3 linked regions of the Homo sapiens genome follow. The protein of the gene in region 2 interacts with the protein of the main gene of each other region in a pairwise test. Each region holds a gene or a part of one and is shown on either strand. Other genes may lie near its edges.

The links. Proteins that work in one complex are often made in the same cells at the same time.
Region 1: the proteins of ZBTB14 (region 2) and FAM161A interact in binary tests that used the Homo sapiens proteins (3 or more experiments, as listed by UniProt).
Region 3: the proteins of ZBTB14 (region 2) and CDKL3 interact in binary tests that used the Homo sapiens proteins (3 or more experiments, as listed by UniProt).

Annotation. Positions count from the first base shown.
Region 1 is NC_000002.12:61,851,040-61,858,842, forward strand, and holds the start of FAM161A (protein FAM161A), read right to left. Parts: upstream 3,022-7,803; 5' UTR 3,003-3,021; coding exon 2,820-3,002; intron 1-2,819. UniProt on the Homo sapiens protein: Involved in ciliogenesis.
Region 2 is NC_000018.10:5,292,710-5,299,925, forward strand, and holds the start of ZBTB14 (zinc finger and BTB domain-containing protein 14), read right to left. Parts: upstream 3,018-7,216; 5' UTR 2,943-3,017; intron 2,713-2,942; exon of another isoform or gene 1,472-2,712; intron 1,293-1,471; 5' UTR 1,263-1,292; intron 619-1,262; 5' UTR 538-618; coding exon 535-537; intron 1-534. UniProt on the Homo sapiens protein: Transcriptional activator of the dopamine transporter (DAT), binding it's promoter at the consensus sequence 5'-CCTGCACAGTTCACGGA-3'. Binds to 5'-d(GCC)(n)-3' trinucleotide repeats in promoter regions and acts as a repressor of the FMR1 gene.
Region 3 is NC_000005.10:134,301,151-134,308,172, forward strand, and holds part of CDKL3 (cyclin-dependent kinase-like 3), read right to left. Parts: coding exon 6,988-7,022; coding exon of another isoform or gene 6,984-6,987; exon of another isoform or gene 6,851-6,983; intron 5,553-6,850; coding exon 5,459-5,552; intron 3,418-5,458; coding exon 3,255-3,417; intron 1,538-3,254; coding exon 1,440-1,537; intron 1,061-1,439; coding exon of another isoform or gene 990-1,060; intron 1-989.

The DNA of each region.
Region 1 (7,803 bases), on a different chromosome or scaffold from region 2:
AATTTTGTATTTTTAGTAGAGATGGGGTTTCTCTATGTTGGTCACGCTGGTCTTGAACTCCCAACCTCAGGTGATCCACCCACCTCAGCCTCCCAAAGTGATGGGATTACAGATGTGAGCCACCGCGCCCGGCCCTGTTCATTTTTAATTGTCTGATTTCCCTCACCAGACTGAAAATTCTGTGAGGATGTGAGCTATATATACACTGAATAGTTAATGACTAGCACTTAATAAATGTTCAATATTTGTTGAAAAGATAAGGTTGCCCCATTAGGAGTGAGATTTTATTTTTTCTTTTTATTTATTTATTTTTTTGAGACATAGTCTCACTCTGTTGCCCAGGCTGGAGTGCAGTTTTTGCATCTCAGCTCACTGCAACCTCCGCCTCCCGGGTTCAGGCAATTCTGCCTCAGCGCCCCCTAGTAGCTGGGATTACAGGCGCGTGCCACCACGTCCGGCTACTTTTTGTATTTTTAGTAGAGACCGGGTTTTGCCATGTTGGCCAGGCTGGCCTCAAACTCCTGACCTCAAGTGATCTACCTGCCTCAGCCTCCCAAAGTGCTGGGAGGAGTGAGATTTTAATTGCGAATTACAGAATACTGCGTTACCTGTGTCATCATCAGTCATATAACAGGATATGTGGACCAACATCTCTGACTAAGGCTAGATTCAAGGAACAGGCATCAGTGCCCAATATGGGCACTGCAAGGGGGGTGCGTGTGTATGCCAGAGCTGGGAGGGTGTATAGGGATGGTGCAGGGGTTGGGGGGTTGGGGGGCAGTGTGGGGTGGGATGAGTGGTCTGGCTTTGGCAAAACCAAAGAGCTGAAAGAGGCCTATTGTGATGGGTGGTTCTCAAATCAATCTTGTGGGTTAGGTATAATATTTGACTTTACTACATTTTATAGATAATAAGGTTAAGGCAAATTAACCTTTAAAAATCAAGATGGAGACCCAAGCCAACCAGTGAAGAAAGCAGAGCCTATTTCCTGCACTCTTCCTGCCTTCTTAATGCCTCTTCCCCCAGCCTGTGCCCCCTGGCTATCAGGCCCACTGTGGCAGCTTACCCAGCTTTACTTTTGGATCCCTCATGTGTGGTGGTCTCAGAACAGTACCAAACTCTTAAGACTTGGCTTCCTTTTTTTTTTTGTAGGATCCTGTCCTTTCCAAACTAGATTATTGTATAAACTGATCCCTCCTAAGGTAATAACAGTTTCTAACACAAATTTGCAGTTTAACAGGGCACTGTGGAAGCATATCTGCAACTTAGAAGTGACTGACTCCTTTACCACAGCAAGCCAAAGTTGAGTTTAATCTTTGGGAAGGCACACAAATGACACTCCCACTGGCAACTCATTTACATAGATTGCTCTTTAGAGGAGACACACATTCTTTCATTTGGTTCTCATAGAGCTGAGATGGGAAAAAAGAGACAATTATTATAGTTATTTTACAGATAAGGAAACTGAGGTTTAAGGAAATTATGTCCTAACACCACCTAGGAAGTGGCAGGGAATGGATCCTAATACAGAACTCTTCAATCCTTTTTCTCCATCACGTTGCCTTGTTGCCTACTGAAAATTGTGTTGAGGGGTAGCTTCATCATGAACAAAATCGGTCCTAGCACTCTGATCCTGGTTCATGTTCAGGGTCTCAGTCTGCCTTACTCTGGATAACTTCAAGTTGTTTGTCTGTTGGTGAAAGATTGGTCACAAAAGGTGTTGCTAAAGATGTTCTCATTAACAATTTTACTGTAGATTAAAGAGATCAGAATTCCAAAATATCCAGTGATTTCAGTTAGTCCTCAATCATAAGTTTGGTGTCTGAGAAGCTTTGGACACATGGTATTAGGAAATTTTTTCTATCTGCAGATTGCTAGTTTAAATTCAAGATTCCCATCTTTTTTTTTTTTTTTTTTTTTTGAGACTGGGTCTGAGATCTCAGCTCACTGCAACCCTCACCTCCCAAGTTCAAGCGATTCTCCTGCCTCAGCCTTCCGAGTAACTAGGATTACAGGGGCGCACCACCACGCCCGGCTAAATTTTGTATTTTTAGTACAGACGGGGTTTCACCATGTTGGTCAGGCTGGTCTCGAACTCCTGACCTCGTAACCCGCCCACCTCGGCCTCCCAAAGTGCTGGGATTATAGGCACGAGCCACCGCGCCCGGCCAAGATTCCCATCTTTTAAGTGAATTGAGCAGATGGCAGACCCTGCCCTCTACCTGCTGGACTGGTGTCCACAACAGATTTAACAATGAAAACTGATCAGTGAAAAGGCCGTCTCGCTGTACCCTAAAGAGCTGTTTAGGAAACACTGAAACCTCAGTGATTTGCTTATCTGTATCCGTGTCTGATTTAGCCAGTGAACACGTGATGGTTTTAAACACACATCTTTAGAGCACTATGTTGAGATCCGCTTATAACCAAGATCTTAAGGTAATAACGAAACACACCTGACAGAACAGTTTTCCTCAAATTACTATATATAGCCAGATATATCTCTATATATCCATTCCCGAGATGCTGGAGAGTAGAGAGTAAAATTCTATACTTTGCACTTGCCAGAAGCAGAGTAACATAAATGTTGTCTAGGAAGCTTTTACAACAGACTGGTGAAAATTAAAACACTTTTCAACGCCTCGATTTAGAGTAATTTTCGTGAGCGTAGAGAAGGGGCTGGGCCAGGACCACCAAGTAGGGACTATGTGCACAGGGACCCGCGTTTACCAGCCTGCCCTCAGCTGGGCGGGGAACCGGACAGCCCTCAGCCTGCACCCAGCCCATGCGAGGTCCCAGCCCAAGTCCCGCCCCAGTATTACCGATGCCCCAGCGGGCTGAGCCACTTTCTCCTCCTCTTCGTCCTCCAAGATCGCCTCCGCTGCCGCCAGGGCCTTTAAGGGGTCTTCGCGTTCGTACTGGGCGACCCGCGCTCCAGTGATGGGATTTACCGGGGTCTGGAGACTGGAGGCCACCAGCTTCGCCACTCGGTGGGAGGTGGCCATCGCCCCGCCTCCGAGGCCTGAGCGCCTGCGCTGGCCCGGGACGGGAAAGCTGGTGCGGCCCCTGGCAACCCGGGGGCGCCTAGCTAGGGAGCCGGTTGCTATGGGCGCCGTAACTGGGGACGCTACAGGAGCCGCCAGGGACCAAAAGTCACGCAAAATCCACTCAGGCTGCCAGAGACCCGAGTCGGGTGCTTACTGGATCATGGCAGTCAGTACCGAGTCTGTTGGCTGGTTCCGAAGGTTGGCAGGCTGAACAGGGCACTTATTCCACTCCTTTGCGTCTAACCGCCTGAACGCAGACTTCTCACATTATACAATGAAACAACTGCTTTTGTGAAGAAAAGAACGCTTTTTTATTAACTGCAATAACATGTTAGAAGGAGACAGTTGATGGAGGAGACGGCGGCGGCGGAGGAAAGCAGGGCGTGTTACTGGGTGGCGGTCTCAGAAGAGTGACAAGGTTGGCGTCCCGCTACCTAACATGTCTCCCGCGGGGGCCAGAGTGGGAAGGAGGGCGGTACATTCTACTCTGATTGACTTGAGGGCTAGCAGGAATCCACCAATCAGAAGGAGGCTCCCAGTTGTCCCTCTCGCTTTTTTCTTGACATGACCAATAAAAGCCCAGAGTTGGGTGGCGCCTGACCCTCCCACTAATGAGTGATAGTGCAGGTATTGTAAACCTGGCGTTTGCTTTGGGTTCTTCAGCTTGAGAGTGACAGGATTGAACGGCACAAGTGCCCAAGAGTCACCACAGACACATCCATCTCCCTCATCCGTATCTTCTCTTCCCACTCGGGATTTGGACGCATCAAATGGCGCCTTCCCTCTGCACCACGTGGCAGTAAGAGAAGCCAAACCTCAAAATAGCGGACGTGGTGCAGTCTCAGACATCTGCTCCCTGAGCCCCTGCTTACTGAGGCCGAGGCTGCCGCCCCCTATCTACTCCCTATCTACCCCCTCTCTATCCTTTGCCCTCCTCCTGCTCCCCAGCCCTACGACCGGCCCCCTCCGGTCAGTATTTTCCTCGTTATGCGCTGCACATCGTCGAGAACCCGTCTCTAAGGTCTGAGCCCTTACCAAACCTTTGTTCTCCTGTCTGGGTGTGAGCACCTACAAAGTCTCCTACGTCCCCACTTCCTTCAGGCTGCTCTTGGTTTTAGCTGAACAGTTGCTTCCCATGCTGGAACAGATGCTGACTGGGTTCTAAGCAGAAGCCAGAGCCAGAACCATGAGATATGCACCGCCAGGTGTGGCCAAGTTTCCAGGGGAGCAATTTCCAGTCAGACACGGCAGCCAGTTTTGTGGCTACAAAACTGCCTCAGCCTCCGGAGTAGCTGGGATTACAGGCGCACTCCCGGGAGGCGGAGGTTGCAGTGAGCCGGGATGGCGCCACTGCACTCCAGCCTGGGCAATAAAGCAAGACTCCGTCTCACCACCACCACCACCAACAAAAGTATTGATAAGGAATTATAGCAGATGAATTATAAATAATGAAATATCCTATTCTCTTTACTGTAAATTCCTCATAGACAATTGCTTCTCTCAGAATGCTTTCGTTGGTTTATGCTGTACTCCTGTATTTGTGGCCAACTTATGGTTGCAATTGTTTAACAACCTAGTTCCAACATGAATGTTGGTTAATATTTTTGTTTTTATTTGTGATTAAGATGAGAGTGACATATCCAAGATCTATGTCAGAATTTCACTTGTCAATGTTATGAGCAACTTCTTTGCTGAAATAGATAATCATTTTCTAACACTGGAATAATTTTTCTTAATTTTTTCTGCAAGTCACAATGTAAAGGCTACAGATAACACAAACTTTTAAGTTTACTCTGCATTAATATTTTCCACATCCGTTTCTTAAGTTTAAATGTCCAATGTTTAGCTTTTGCTGATTTCCATGATGTCAATATTCCCATCATAGCCAATTTCAAGCCACCAATGTGACATCACTTAATAAGAATTTGAGAAAAGATGTCTAGTAGCACACCATTATATAGTATTTCCACCATACAGATACAGTAGATGCAAGGAACATAAAAGAAAGTGAAGAGTTTTAAGAAATTATCTTTGTTTTTGACATAATTTATTGTAATTAACAAAACAATTTTTTTTTTTTTAAGATGGAGTCTCCTTGTCACCCAGGCTGGAGTGCAGTGACGTGATCTCGGCTCACTGCAACTTCCGCCTCCCAGGTTCAAGCGATTCTCCTGCCTCAACCTCCCGAATAGCTGGGACTACAGGTGCCTGCCAACACGCCTAGCAAATGTTGTATTTTTAGTAGAGGGCAGGGTTTCACCATGTTGACCAGGCTGGTCTTAAAATCCTGACCTCAGGTGATCCGCCTGCTTTGGCCTCCCAAAGCACTGGGATTACAGATATGAGCCACCACGCCCAGCCAAGTTAGACATTATAAAAGAAAAATAACTAGAAAAGCCTTTTTAGTTGGGAAATTTAAAACTCTTCAAAAAACAATTTGTGCATTACAGAAAAAGTCATGGCAGAAATTATCTAGAGAGTCAAATAACAACAAAAATACAATGTGTCAAAATGTCTTAAATGTAAAATGGTGCAGCCACTTTTTAAAAGTTTAGGCCTTCTTTCTCCCACCGTCCCTCATGTTCTTCCTTTCCATCTTGGGCCTGGCAGAATGGCTCCTGCAAAGAAGGGTGGCAAGAAGATGAGCTGTTCTGCCATCAACAAGGTAGTGACCCAAGAACACACTTGGGTCACTAGCTCACATCCATGGAGTGGGCTTCAAGAAGCATGCTCTGTGGGCATTCAAAGAGATTCAGAAATTTGCCATGAAGATGGGCACTCCAGATGTGTGCATTGATACCAGGCTTAACAAGGCTATCAGGGCCAAAGGAATAAGGAATGTCCCACACCATGTACATGTGCGATTGTTCAGAAAACATAACAAGGATGAAAATTCACCAAACAAGCTCAATACTGTGGTTACCTGTATACCTGTTACCACTTTCAAAAATCTAGATAGTCAGTGTGGATGAGAACTAACTGCCAATTGTCATATATGTCAAATAAAGCTATAAACCCGCTAAAAATAATTGTGACGGCTCCTCTGAAAGTTGAATATACAATTACTATATGACTCACTCCTAGGTATATACCAAAGATAATTGAAAACATGTTCACACAAAAACTTGTGCAGTGTGGAAGAAAATGAAGTAACTAAGGTGAAGGCTTTCTAAAGTGGAGTCAGGAGATTGCTAGGGGATTGCATTCACACCTGCTAAAAAGTCAAACCACCGAATAGACCTGTAGAAACAACTGAAGTCAGTAAGTATCTGCCAGCCTTCATCATCTCTCAGCGTGAGTACCCTAATTAACCAACCAATCAGAATGGGTTTGAGATTTAAGAGTTCTACCCAGCCAATGAACTGCCTCTGAAAACTTCTTGTGGGAATCCCCTATTTAAAAAACCCTCTCCTGTGCTTGCCTTATGAGACACTATTCAGGGCTGCTCTGATTCACTGTACGTGAATTGCAATTCTTTGTTTCTCAAATAAATTAAATGCTATTTCCTTTGACCTCTGTGTCTCAATCTTTTTTCTTTTTTTTTTTTTTTTTTTTTTTTTGTCGCCCATGCTGGGATGCAGTGGCATGATCTCAGCCCACAGCAACGTCTGCCTCCCGGGCTTGAAAGATCCTCCCATCTCAGCCTCCAGAGTAGCTGGGACTGTAGGCGCGGGCCACTACACCCAGCTTATTATTATTATTATTATTTTGTAGGGTTTCACTTATGTTTTCACTTATGTTGCCCAGGCTGGTCTCGGGCTCAAGCAATCCGCCCTCCTCAGCCTCTCAAAGTGCTGGGATTACTGGCATGAGCCACCATGCCCAGCCTCGATCTTTGTTGTAGTTAACACAAATGTTCAAAGCAGCATTAATAGGAGCCAAAAGATGGAAACACTTCACATGTCCTTCAGCTGTTGAATGGATAAACAAAATGTGGTGTATGCATATAATGAAATGTTACTGAGCCACTCCCCCAACAAGTGGGCTTTCCCTCTGGTCCAGGAGGTCCAGTGCACTTTGGGTTAGGCAGCAATCTCAGAGCTCAGAAGCAAAATGACCTTCCAAGAAACAAGTGCAAGACAAGATCATTGGTTCAGCAACAAATAGATGCTACTGAAGGAGCTGAAATTTGCAGGATGCCTAGAAAAAAGGCAGACATAAGCAAAGTAAATTTGGAGGCTAATAAAGACTTAGATAACAATATGAATAATGGAAATCCTTGGGTTTGAAGAAGATGCCGTGATTGAGTTTATATTCAACCAGGTGGAAGTGGAGACCTGAACCAAAATGGAAGTTATTCCTTGCATCTCAAGTATAACATCATCATTGTATTAGGTCTCAGCAAAATGAACATCCCAATGTCACACTGCACTCCCTTATGTGTTTGGAAAATCCAGACTCCAAAATGATACAAAGCAATCTGACTGGGTTTTTGAATGAAATTACTAGAGAATTATGGGAGAACTGTAGTCCCTGCTGTTAAACGCACAAGAAGACATCACTGGAATCTCTTCTGCTTTCCTAGAACTGAAGAAAGAAGAAAAAAAAAAAAAACAGAGACAGACAGAACAAGAAAAAAAAAACCTGGTGTCTATGAAAAAGCAATATAAGGAGAAAAATAAGGATAAAGAAGAAAAAAGAAAGCAGAGAAAAAGGGGAGAGGTCTTAAAGCCCAAGAAAATGTAAATTCAGATCTCCTTCTCCTAAAAGAGGATCCTACCCTGTCAGGAGCAAGAGAATGCACAGTCATTTTCAATCT
Region 2 (7,216 bases):
TACTCTATGGAGGATTCAGCAAAATAATTATGTTATACCTCCTTGACAGAAGGAACAAATTACTATTGCAGAACTAGAGAGGAACATTACTGCCAAAATATCCCATTGAGTGTTGTGTTCTAGATTTTCCACAGCACTTTTGGGCCACTTCTAAATGAAGGTCAAGGTTTAATCTGACCTTAAGAGAATGAGATGACATTTGGGAAGTGGCTTTGTTCTCTCTAGATGCCAATCTACCTGCATCCAGATAAAAGTGCCATCAACACCAGATGTAAGTACTTGATAAGTGCTGAGAGTATTTTATAAGCAAAAATTTGGAACTGGCATGAAAGATCTCTGTCATCATGTTAAAAAACTGGTCATCTTAAAGCATTCTCTATGTTTCCTTTTTAAAAACATTGTTTTACTTTTATTCGGCTAATATTTTCCCCCAGACAAATAGAAGTGTTCATGCACAATCAGAATTGGTATATATATTTTAAAGCAAATGCCAAGTCATTTTCATCAAGATTTAATATCCAAAGTTATAGTTACCATGAACAACTCAGGCTATTATCTTAATGCCTTGAACGCCAAAATCTTCAGATCAGAGTAACTCTGATCAGGAGCACGCCAGACCTACAGAGGAAAGGATAAACAAGAATGAGGTAGGATCTTCCTGTATCCCAAATCCTAAACCAAGAATTGATTTTTTAAAAATAAACTTTCTTGTTCCCTCTTTTGTGCATTTTCAGGTTGGGGAGAGTGGCAGGTAGGTAGCTGGTACATCAAGTGCAGTTCTGAACAGATATGGACTAGAACAGATAAGGGCTGTAGCACTCGGGCATAAAGGGGCTGTGCCCTAGGAACTGGAAGGAGGGGTTGGAGAACCATTAAGGGATTTCTCCTCACACACTAAGCTCATGTCCATATTTGTACAGAGATTGATGGCTACACAGATATAGAAAAAAACAAGTGCACCGTGCCCCCTACACCTATCCCATTTCCCGCTGGGTATGTTAGCCCTCTACATTTTTCTCTCGGCTCATACAAACCTATAGAAGTATATACCTTACAAATAAAGCTATAGAAGTACATAAACCCAACAGGTAACATGGGAGGAGAGGGAACAATGATTGCTTTTTCTTTCTGCACCTGTGTGATGTATTAATAGCATACACGTTTGTTTTTAAGATTGTATTTGATAAATCCAGGTGTTTTTACCTCTATCCCTACAATAAGGGTGAAAGAATTTCAGCTTTTTTGTGAGTTTTAACTCTTACCGGAAGAACTCCATCCTGCAGACCCATATCCTGAAAAACAAAAAGTTTCCTCTACTGAACAGTGACCACACAGATAAGTTGTTTGGTGTGGTAGGAGCAAAGGACTGGGCTGTAACAGTCTTACACAAAAACCATGGAACAAGACTCCAACCTGGAGACCAACACCTTGAAACCCATAATAAGCTCCTTCTAAAGAAAAGTGAACACACCGAGCTACCCAGCGTAGAAGCGGGATGTCTCATCTGAAGTTTGAGGTTAGGCAACATTTCCAAAAGATGATTCTGACTTGATCATTCTACGTGTTTCTGCCTCTCTATTCCCTAGAAGCACCCAGGCCTGTAATCATCCAGAGGCTAGGCAGCCCAGCAAAAACCTTACACTGTGACACTTACTACTGTTGTCACTAACTCGTCCTAGGGCTTGTGGGATAAAAGTGCATGGGACCAGAGAGAGGAGTGGCCTTAGACTAGCTATGACAACATATCAATGTGTTGTTGTTGTTTTGGCTAGTGTGTACTTGGCCACTCGCCCCTCTCCCCTCTCTCTCTCAAGATGTATGAGACCTGGAAGAGAGACCATGTGTGTCCAAAGCCGCCTCCTCCCCGCCCCGCCCCCCTTGCCATTGAGATGTCCAATTGCTCAGTTCAGGTGAGTCAAAACTGGAAGACAGCTGTTGCCAGCATCTGTGTAGGCAGGTGTAGGAAAAGACGTAGCCCCAACACCACCTTCATAATAAGGCTGCCCCTTCCTAATTGCTCTCCAAACTGCGGGCGCGCTAAGCCGCGTTACAGTGCAGGGAGCCGGGCTTCCCGCAAAGCCAAAAACTTACATAAGCAGCTGCAGCCGCCTCCCCTGCCCCGGGCAGCCCGACAATGGCGGCTGCACGACTTCCTTGTTGCAAGCTTGCAACTTCGGAGTCGGGAGGAAGCAGGGAGCCAAGCGCAGACCCAAGAAGCCCTCAAGGCGTATCGAGTCCTCCCTCTCAATTTCTTTGGGCCTGGGAGGTGGGGAGTGGAGGAGGCCGTTTGCACTCCTTCCCAGACAAAAGCTCCCAGCCTGGGAGCCAGGTGGTGAAAGGGCCACTTTCCCTTTCATAATCAGACGTCGAGCGCAGGCTTGGGACCGCGGCTCGGAGCGCGCAGGGAGGGACTGCGGCCCGCGGCGGCCCCGGCGGCGCGACGAGCGGGAGCGGGCGTGCGGCCGGCTCCGCAGCCCCGCGCCGCGCCGCGCCCCGCTCCGCCCGCGAGCCCGGAGCTCGCGCCCCGCGCACTCCCCGGCCAGCTCGCGCCGGGCCCTCCCCCGCCCTCCCGCGGCCGGGGGCGGGGGCGGCGCGCGGCCGGCTAACCCAAGCTCCGCGGGCGCACCCGGGAGTGCGTGCGCTGGGTCCCGGCCCCCTCCTCCGCCGGCGGCTGTAGGCGGCGCGGCGGGGCCCGCGGCTCGGAGGGGCGGCGCCCGGCGGGCCGCGCTCCGCGCTGGGTTCGGGCCGTCCCCACCCCCACCGCGGTGCACTGCGGCGGTGCGAGCGGGGGCGGCCATGAACTCGGCCGCCGAGGCTCTGCGAGCGCGCGCGCGGGGCCGCCGCCGCCTGGCCGCTCCCCGAGCCCGCTCGCCGGCCCGCGCGGCCCCCGGGGCGCCCCGGCCCCACGCCCAACCCTGGCCCACGCCCGTCCCCGCTCGCACCGCGCCGCGCCGCTGGCGGCCGCCGCACATCCTGGAGCTGGCTGGTGCCCCAGAGCTCGGCGAGAACGCGCGTCTTCCGGGCCGCCCCGCCAGCCGCCGGCCGCCCCCGCGCCCGCCTTGCGGACGGCCCCAGCCCCTTCCGCACCCTGGCCCGCGCTTACCTGCAGCCTGGCACAGGCACAGACACTGCCGTGGGTTCCCCGCGCTCGCTAGCAAACGCAGGCCGGGACCGGAGGGGCTCGGGGCGCGGGGGCACGGTGGGTGGCAGTGTGTTTTGGATTTTTTTTTGGAGTTTGGGGAGGGGGCGGGGTGGGGGAAATCGTGCACGTCCCTGATGGTAGCAGCCCTCCTCCTGCACGAGCACAGAATGTCTAGCCGGCCGTGAACACCCCCACCGCCCCCCCCTTCCCGTGCATGCGCGGTGCGGGCTGGGGGGAAGGCGCGCCGCCGGCTTGCGCAGGCACGGAACCCGACCGGGTCTCTAAGTGGGCGAGCAAAGAAAGGGTTAATCCGGGCCCTTGCCGACGCTTTCGTTGGAGACTACGGGGCCGCCCCCGGAGGGCCCTGGCCTGCGCACGCGCGCGCACGCGCGCGGCTTGGGGCGCGCGGAGCCCGCGCGCGGGAGAAGGAGTGGGCGGGGCAAGGGCGGGGCTTCGGGAGCCAGGGAACTTAAGCACGAGCGCTGCTCGCGGACACCCGCCCCGCCTCAAGCTCCCTCCCGCCCTGGTTCGTGGGCTTCCGCCCGCGCCCGGCGCCGGCGCAGCGCCGGGGACGCGGGAGCCAGCGCTCCCGTGCGTGTGCATGTGCGTGGGCCAGAGCCTCCCCCGGGCGCGCGCAGGCCGGGCGCTGAGGCTGCGGGGCTCTGCCGCGTCTCGGAGCGGGCGCCCCGGCCACTTTCGCCCTCCGCGCACACCGGCCGACACCGGGAGGCGCGCCCACGGGTCTGCGGTCTTGCCTCTTGCCGCCGGCACATTGAGTTTGTGGGGGAGTGGACGGTGCACAATAAACACTTGCAGAACAAATGGAAAAAGCGACGTCTTCGATTTGTAGTGTAAAGCGCAACCCCAGTTGCCCAGCAGAAAGGGATCACCCATAGGGCTTCGGAGCTAGTAGGTCCGCGCCCGGACACTCCAAGGAAAAGTCCAGGGGCTGGAGGCGGCGACCCGTCTGTGGCAGTCCAGACCCTGGACTCGATTCGGAGAGCTCTGATAACTTGGCTCTGTCCTTAACATCCCTGCTCAGCGCCAGTAATGGCTCCGTTGCTGTTGAACCACGTCGCCTTCCCTCTGACGCGGCGGCTGTGCCTGTGTCTGGCGTCGGGAGCTGGGAAGTCCCTCCCGCTCCCGCGTTTTCTGCTCACCGAGATGCAGGAGGCCGGACAGCAATGCCGCGCCGCCTTAGAGTCGCTCATGTTGCTTTACCTCACACGCGAAGTTTCCCCGAAACGCGTAATTTAATATCTAAAGATTAGAGCAGAAGCTTCCTCTTGGGCTTATTGAAGATGACATAAGATAGTGCTTGCAACAGGCACCTAAGTAAACATTTGGGAAATAATATGATGATTGGATGTGTTAATTTTCTAAAGGAAGTTCTATATGGCCTCAGTTGATTTTGTAATGTTAATTGACTTTGGTTTAACGTTCCCCAAGGCGACTTTATACGCATCTTTTTTGATGTTCACAAAAGCACCCAAGTTACGGCTTATATGGAGGAAATAGGATGGAAGAGACCGGTTGTAGAGTCAGACATATCCAGTTCACATATTGGGTAAATTGTTTAACTTCTCTAAACCTCAGCTGAAGGAGAGCTATGGAAAGCACCTAATAAGGCACTTGTAAGGATTAAGTGAAATAATGCCCAGCTAAGGTATTAGCTCCATGATGGAAAATCACCTGCACCCACAGATAGTGGGTTCCAGTGGCCTGGACAGAACCAGAACCAAGTCTTCTGCCACGAAAGTTCACACTCATCAGACATGATACCGTGTACTCGCTTTATTCTTGTTTGCGTAGCTCTTGAAGTTGCATTTCAATCCTGTGGATGCTGTGTGTTTATAGGGGGATAATAATAGTACTCTGTCATAGGGTTGCGTCACCAAGCAGTAAAGCAGCCACTGCAGTTAGCACAATGTGTGGACACGGCCAGTACTCAAGTCATGGCGCATCTGCTGCTGGCGCTCCCCCTTCTCCCATACCACATATGGGGTTTCCCACTCATTCTGCGTGTATTTTTGGTCTGCCTACTGTGTAAAGACAATCTTTTCGCATATGGCTAGGAAAAGACTTCCCACGTTTCCACTAACCCGATAACATAATTCACAAGAGTTCTAAAGCACTAGAATGCATTTCTCAAGTGACGGTTCCTGACATCCTGGTTTTGTATCAATGAATCCTCTTGTCTCATTTGTTTTATGTTCATGTCACCTGGGCTCTGCCTGGCTGTCCCTTGCTGGTTCACAGGGGTTGTGGGGATGAGTCTAAATTAAAGGGACAACTCTGTGGGAAGGTGGAGGGATGGGAAACCACAAAGGAAAGGCCTGACCCAAGCCTGGCTTCTCGCCTGTGTCGCCACCCAAAAGTGCACTTCCCAGCACCCAAGAGGCTTTCAATAAACATCAGCGGACAGTAAGTGACAACCTTGAATTTGATACTAAGGGGCTTTGTAAAAGTACACTGTGGCGTCAACGCGGGGGCAGGGCTTTCCTGAAATGCACTGACCCAAGGTCCTTGACAAAGTTTTCCTCCTTTTCCGACAACTCTGATGGGTGACATTTGGAGCACGTTGTTCCTCACTTGGGACACCCATGGCCTCCTGAGTGGAACCTGTTTCTAAGAATTGTGAGGCCCAGGCCATGGGGCCCGCAGTGTGCAGTCCCGGGTGCCAGGGTCTGATGTGGTTACAGAGCAGCCCAGTAAGGGACCGTTTGGAAACATTATGTCTCACAGGCGGGGGAGGTTGATTTCTCCCTCATGTTGACCTTGGGCCCTCTGGCTGGTTTTGAAACAGCAGGATACCAGCAGATGAGAGTGGGCCGGGTCTGAGTAGAGGTTTTGAGAGCAGCCTTTGTTCTGCGCCTCCTCCTCTGCTGTGACGTCCAGCACAACACGACCATGGTTAGGCCACAACCCCCTCTTCAGCTTGGGCCCTTGAATGACAAACAGACCTGAGAATGAAGCCAACCCAAAACCTGAGCACAGCCAAGCCTAGAGAGAAGACAACTCACCCACAGACCTATGACTGAGAAGTAAATGTTTGTTTTATAAGCCACTGGGAGGTTGGGTTTTATGCTTTGTTACTGAACAAAATCTAATACATCTGTGCAAGGAAAAGTGTCACACCCAATGCCATAACCACCTTCCCCCTGTGACTCTGAGAACACTTGATACAGCAAATGAACAAAAACCCGATCCAATCCGTGTCATCATGGAGATACTGATGTGCACATTCAACAAATAATCACATCGTTACACAATTGCACATTGCAATAAGTGTTTTTATAGAAAGTTAAAAAACACAGAATGTGATGAAAAAGAGGAACAGGAGGAATTAATTTTGCCTGGGAAATCAGTGAAAGCTTCTTCAAAGGCATACATTTAAGACCTGAAAGATGAGGGAGAGATTCGCAAAGAGGGGGAAGAAATAGCATTTCAAGACAGAGACAGGAACAAAGTGAATGCAAGGGTGGAAGGAGCTTGAAGTACCTCAGTCTCTGCAAAAGTGGACATGAGATGTGTTTGTGAGAACAACAGTGTCCAGCACCTGTAGGGCCTTGTGGTTTATAGGAAGGGGTCTTCACAATGACAGCCCCGAAAGCTTGGGCCATTTAGGTGGAGGGGTTGAATCAAAGGAAGGTCCTGAACATCTGCCAGGGCAAGGAACATCAGGACAAGCTTGTCTTGTGCTTGTGGAGGAATTGCTGCATGAGGATGGAGTTGGCCATGTGGAACGATCATTCTCCTATGGATCAGAACTGGTGGGGCATCTGGTCGTCTCTGGGCACCAGACACTTGTTTCTTCTTCCTCTGGAACCTGGTCATTTAGATTTCCTCATTGCCTTTTGGGTTAACATCGAGGAAACTGGGTGAAGAGTTTCTGGAAACACTCTGTGTTATCTTGACAACTCTTCCATAAATCCAATATTATTGTAAAACGAAAATTATTCCTGTTCATGTAATTATTTTTTCCTAGATACTTTCAAGATTTTTTTCTTTGTCTTTAGTTTTCAGCATTTTGATTATGGTGTTTTCTGAGTAGGGATTTCATTGCTTATACTG
Region 3 (7,022 bases), on a different chromosome or scaffold from region 2:
CCACACCCAGCTAATTTTTGTATTTTTAGTAGAGAAGGGGTTTCACCACATTGGCCAGGCTGGTCTTGAACTCCTGACTTCAGGTGATCCACCCTCTTCAGCCTCCCAAAGTGCTGGGATTACAGGTGTGAGCCACTGTGCCCGGCCTAATGGCATTCTTGTTCTACAACATTTCTTCTCTGCAAAGTGGACTGTGGAGTTCTTAACAAGCTCTAGGCCAAGACTAAAGAGATAGCCCTAAATGTCACAGTGAGAATACATCTAATAGTGTCTGATAACCCTCTATCCAAATATTATAGAGATCAAGTAGCCTTGTTAAAATGCCTTCTTACAGAGTTTCAGATTTTTTAAAATATTTTTAATTTCTTCAAATTTTCTTAATAAGTATTTACTAATTTTATCATGAGTAAAACTGTAATAAATTTTATTTTTTAAAAAAACAGAAGTTGGGCCAGATGCGGCGGCTCACACCTATAATCCCAGCACTTTGGGAGGCCCAGGCGGGTGGATCACGAGGTCAGGAGATCGAGACCATCCTGGCTAACACAGTGAAACCCCGTCTCTACTAAAAATATTTTTTAAAAAAAATAGCTGGGTGTGGTGGCGTGTGCCTGTAGTCCCAGCTACTTGGGAGGCTGAGGCAGGAGAATTGCTTGAACCCGGGAGGCAGAGGTTGCAGTGAGCCGAGATCGCGCCACTGCACTCCAGCCTGGGCAACAGAGAGACACTCCGTCTCAAAAACAAACAAACAAACAAACAAACAAACACAAAAACAGAAGTTGATAAATCACATACAGAGATGACCTCACAAGTGTAGAATAGGAGGCCATCGATATGATTTAATTCAGTGGGTGCTCAGCACAATCTCTCTCTCTTAAAAGACTGTCTTTATAGAGCATTCATTTGGATATTACAGGCTTCAAGATTTTCAAATAAAATTTGAGAATCTCTCTGGTGGGTAGGGACTGGGAATATTTCAACAAGATTACCTGATAGTTAGCTGAGAGCAAATATTTGTGAAAATAGGACAGCAGGCAGACAGCAGAGATAAGGGAATAAACTGGAGAGAAAACGAAGGAAGGAAGAGGCTTAAAGGCAAAGACACACATGCTTGTGGCCATATAACCATATATTTATACCATTATTCATTTTCACTAGTCTGACTTACCTGCCTGATATCTGACACTACACACAATACAGATAATATTTTCCCTGGGTGCCATGCATTCTAATCATTCAACATTACCCACCAAAAAATAACTTTTAGAAACTTTTATTAATGGGTTATTCTAGGAAAATATAGATCTGTTTCTTTAGTTCAAAGATTATAAAATTTTGAATTTTTATATAGCTTTCCAATAGTAATAACTAAATTTATACACTGAGTCAAGTCCTCTAAACAACATGCCTTAGTAAAAGCTATATACAAAAAGAGTTACCTCTTGTTTTTCTTGATTTTGATCCACGTTAAGTAAAGTTGGTATCTTAGATGACTCTGTTTTCTTTGACTCCCTCTTCAGCATTTTTATCTGTTTAACTTTTGCAAAAATATACAAAACAATGAAAATTTGTTATTCCTACTTTGAAATTTTACTTTCCTTTCCAAGAATTTCAAATAGAAATCCACTAAGTCAGTTTCTCAGTTTATTACAAAGGAACAAAATAAATTATGAGTTGTAATGGTAAAATATGGTAAATTATTTGTTTTATAACTTTACAAATAGTCTACTAAGTATTAAAATAAGACATTTATTTTATTTTATTTTATTTTATTATTCTCAGTGTAACTGTTAAGTGGATCAGATAATTCCTCTTGAACTGTACAAGGATGATATTCTTGCTATTATATTAATTTTTCACAAGGTGTCACTGTTCTTCAAAGAAACATAACATTTATTCAAGACAAAAGTGCGTTTCATTCTGATATAAATCTTAAGTTCATAAATTTTTTTTTTTTTTGAGATGGAGTCTCACTCTGTCACCCAGGCTGGAGTGCAGTGGCGCGATCTCGGCTCACTGCAACCTCCGCCTCCCGGTTTCAAGTGATTTTCCTGCCTCAGCCTCCCAAGTAGCCGGGATTACAGGCATGAGCCACCATGCCTGGCTAATAGAGATGGGGTTTTGCCATATTGGCCAGGGTGGTCTCAAATTCCTGACCTCAGGTGATCCGCCCACCTTGGCTTCCCAAAGTGCTGGGATTACAGGTGTGAGCCACTGTGCCCAGCCTATAAATCTTATATATTTAATCCTTGGATGCTCAAAATACATATAAAATTTCTGCTACTATATGGGTAAATGATCATGAAGAAACATAGAAAGGCAATTTACCCCAGGTCATATACTAAACAAATTTCTCAAATACTATTCTAACATTTCAACAACATTGAGCTAATAAAAAATTTATCCTTTGCAGCCAGCTGCAATGGCTCACGCCTGTAATCCCAGCACTTTGGGAGGTTGAGACAGGTGGATCACCTGAGGTCAGGAGTTCGAAATCAGCCTGTCCAAAATGGTGGAACCCCCCCCCCGTCTCTACTAAAAATACAAAAATTAGCCAGGCGTGTTGGTGGGCACCTGTAGTCCCAGCTACTCAGGAGGCTAGGCACGAGAATCACTTGAACCTGGGAGGTGGTGGTTGCACTGAGCTGAGATTGCAACACTGCACTCCAGCCTGGGCAGCAGAGTGAGACTCTGTCTTAAATAAATAAATAAATAAATAAATTTTAATAATTTACCTTTTAAAGCTGTCTTAACCTCTCTTTATTTTTCTTTTTAATTAAAAAAAAATTTTTTTTTTTTAGAGACAGGGTCTCATTATGTCATCCTGGAGTGCAGTACAGTGGCGTGATCATGGCTCACTGCAGTCTCAACTTCCTGGGTCAAGCAATCCTCCTACCTCAGCCTCTGGAGTAGCTGGGACTACAGGCACACACCACCACACCAAGCTATTTTATTTTTTGTAGAGACAGGGTTTTGCTATGTTGCCCAGGCTTGTCTCAAACTCCTGGGCCCAAGCAATCCTCCTGCATTGGCCTCCCAAAATGCTGGGATTACACGCCTAAGCCTCTTTAAAATTATCTCCTTAAAATCATACCCCTTATTTGACAATGGGGAGAAAATCTCATCAGCTGAAATGTTTTCCTCACCAATTTACTATTTTCTACCTAAATCACACTATAAAATGTAAGTTATATTATGAAAAAATCTTATAAATGATATCATCATAATTGTAAAGCTATGCAACAAATGTGTACCTTCCATTCCTTTTGTATCTTTTGACTGTATTGTGACAGGCAATTCTGGAAAATGGAATTCTTTCCTGTCAGATCTGGAAAAATTCAGCTTCCTTTTGTTCTCATTTGCCATTTGGTCACTGTGACCTGTTCGCTCATTAAATATACCCTTCTCCATTTGGCTCTAAACAAACAAACAAGAGTTAGTTGAAGAAATGTGTCTAACTATTTGTAGAATGACAATCCTAGAATTGCTAGCCATTTGGATGGTATAAGATAGACATAACAATTAATTTAATAATTAAGAAGATTTAGAATAGAACACTATTGAACATATCAACAGATCAAACTCCAATAAAAGTTTCATAAAGCAAACATTTCTAGCATATTTAATATTCTGAGCATAATAGTCTTGGTCATGAGAACCACAATAATAATAATAATAATAATATTATTATTATTATTATTATTTTGAGTGCATTGGCATGATCATGACTCATTGCAGCGTCAACCCCCTGGGCTCAAGTGATCTTCCCACCTCAGTCTCTTAAGTAACTGGGACTACAGGCACATACCACCATGCCTGGTTAATTTTTAAATTTTTCGTAGAGATGGGGTCTTGTTAGGTTGACTAGGCTGATCTCAAACTCCTGGGCTCAAGTGACCCTTCTGCCTTGGGCTCCCAAAATGCTGGGATTACAAACATGAGCCACTGCATCTGGCCTTATTATTATTATTATTATTATTATTAAGACAGAGTCTTGCTTTGTTGTCCAGGCTGAAATACAGTGGCGCCATTACGGCTGCAGCCTCAACCTCTTGGGCTCAAGCCATAGTCCCATCTTAGCCCCCGAGTCTGAAACCACAGCCACATGCCACCACACACGACTAATTTATTTTATTTCATTTTTTGTACAGACAGGGTCCGTTATGTCGCCCAGGCTGATCTCAAATTCCTGGGATCAAGCAATCCTCCCAGCTCAGTCTCCCAAAATGCTAGGATTACAGGTGAGAGCCACTGTGCCTGGCCAGAACCACAAACTTAACTTTTCATTTTTAATACTATTCACTGCACTCTGACTTTGAACAAATTGCTTCAGTTCATTTTCTTAATAACTTCTTTATCTACCTAGAAAATGATATGCTTTGTAAACACTGGGAAAACCCAAAGGAAAAAATGTATTGCACATCCAGCATCTGGGAAACCTTCTGTGTTACCAGATTTTTGTTCATTTGAAAACAGATGATAAAATCTTGTCTAGATCAATGAACACTCTTCCACAATGTAATGTTTAGTATTCCACTGTATGAATGTACCCTAATGTACTTAGTCATCTGCTTTTGGACAGGTTTGTATTGTTTTCAGTTTTTTGTTATTATAATTAACATTGTGCTTCAATTTTGAATAAATCAATTTCCTATGTAAAAAGTTGTGAGGTCCCATTAGCGATGAATAATGCAAAATAAGCCAAAAACAAAACAAAACAAAAGTTGGGAGGGGGATGAACTACATCGATTATTTTGATTATTTTTTCTAGTGAAAATAAGTTGTGTTTATTTGGCAATTGTTTTTAATCCATAAAGATATTAAAAACATTTTTTGGGAGTGAAAAAAACAAAACTTCTTGTGACTTTCAAAGGTGGAAATCTTAACTTACTCTGCCTAAGTCACATGTTAAATACATAAATTAAGATATATGAACTTAATTAATTGTGATAAATTAAGATATATGAACTTAATTAATTGTGAAAGCACTTAGAAAATAATGGCCTATTTTCAACTCAGGAAGAAAAAAAGAAACTTAAAGCACATTTTTAGAAGTGTTAGAGGCTGGGTGCGTTGGCTCACACCTGTAATCCTAGCACTTTGGGAAGCTGAGGCGGAAGGATCCCTTGAGCTCAGGAGTTTGAGACCAGCCTGGGCAACATAGTGAGACTTTGTCGCTACAAAAAAATGAACAAAATTAGCTGGGCATGGTGGCATGTGCCTGAAGTCTCAGCTACTTGGGAGGCTGAGGTGGGAGCATTGCTTGGGCCCAGGAGGTCGAGGCTGCAGTGAGCTGAGATCGTACCACTGCACTCCAGTCTGGGCAACAGAGAGAGATCCTCTCTCAAAAAAACAAAACAAACAAACAAAAAAGTATTAGAGCCCTAAAGATAGAGAAAAGGAAAAAAGAAGTAATGTTAAAAGAGGCCATATTTTAATGTGTAGCTTCTTGCCTTACTTGAATAGGACCTGGATCCTCTTGCCTGCTATTAGGCATAACTTGTCCAATAGATTGTGAAGAAGTGCGTCTCTTTTTTGCTCTTTCAGTTAACCTATTATTTAAAAATGAATGAGAAGTTACTAAAACTCCCCAGAAATGCTTTTTTTTTTTTTTTTTTTTTTTTGGCAGATTCTCACTCTGTCACCCAGGCTGGAGTGCAGTGTCATGATCTTGGCTCACTGCAACCTCTGTCTCCTGGGTTCAAGTGATTCTCTTGCCTCAGCCTCCCAAGTAGCTGGGATTACTGGTGTGCTCCAACATGCCCAACTAATTTTTGTATTTTTTGTAGAGACAGGGTTTTGCCATGTTGGCCAGGCTGGTCTCGAACTCCTGAGCTAAAGTGATACACTCGCCTTGGCCTCCCAAATTGCTGGGATTACAGGCACGAGCCACCATGCCCGGCCGAAATGCCTTTGTTTTAGCTTCAAGAATGAATAAATTATGGCTTGGAAGTCTACTGTTTGAACACTGAGTACCAAAATGCAATAGTGAGTCCTTACCTACCAATTGCCCTTAGGAGAGAGGTGGTAACAGGGCAGAGAACAATTAGTGCATGTTTACATCAGTGGTGACAGGCATGTTGTGGGGTTACTCCTGCTGGCCTACTTGCTCCCTTCTACCTGTTCTGAATTTGGTTCTCTTAACTATCAGCTTTCTCAATTTATGAACTTACTGTCCAAGACTGACTGGCTTACAACCATTGTTACTGATACCATGGTTTTGGGATCACCTCAAGAACAACTAGGCTCTTGCAGTCTGTAACCTGCTGTACCTTTGGACTGACATGGACATGTCCACTTGCTCACCTCTGCAGACCACTGGGCTTCACAACCTGTGGCCCAAACCAGTCTGCTAGAATCCTCTTGGGCTAATGAACCCAGTCTCCTCCCCTAGAATGACAGTAGCCTCCCTAAATTTTGAAGTGGCCTTACTGCCTTGTTGGACAAACTCTCACCATCCATCACACTGCCCTTGATTAACCAGACTCATGGACCAGTCTCTCAATCTGTATCAGAGGTTAAATCTAAAACTGGCCTAATATGCTATTTTTCTCCCAAAATATTTCACCTTGAAAGGCTATTTGACTTACGAAAGATTATTTTTTTACTATCCTTTCTCCACTTAGAGAATTTGCTATGATACAGAAATAAATATTTTGTTATACCAAGGCACATTGATACCAGAACTTAGGACATACCAACTTTTTTTCTCTTCAAAAATAAAAACATTTTTCAAAGGGTCTTTTTTTTTAATAAGGTTTTTCAAGAAGACATTAGTGAAAATTTAAACATCTATATGGCCAAGAAAAGTTAATTTCTTCTACAGCATCCATAAGAAACACTCAGTAAATGGCCCATTATACAGCTTTAATTTCAATATATTTTCTTCAAGTTCAGTTTACATACAGACACTATGAACACGATTCTTTGAAATACCATTATACAGGAATGTTGTATTATTTAGGTTTCTTCTCTGTTACAGCTCACCTCACACTGGGGTGAAAGAGATTTGAACTGAGATT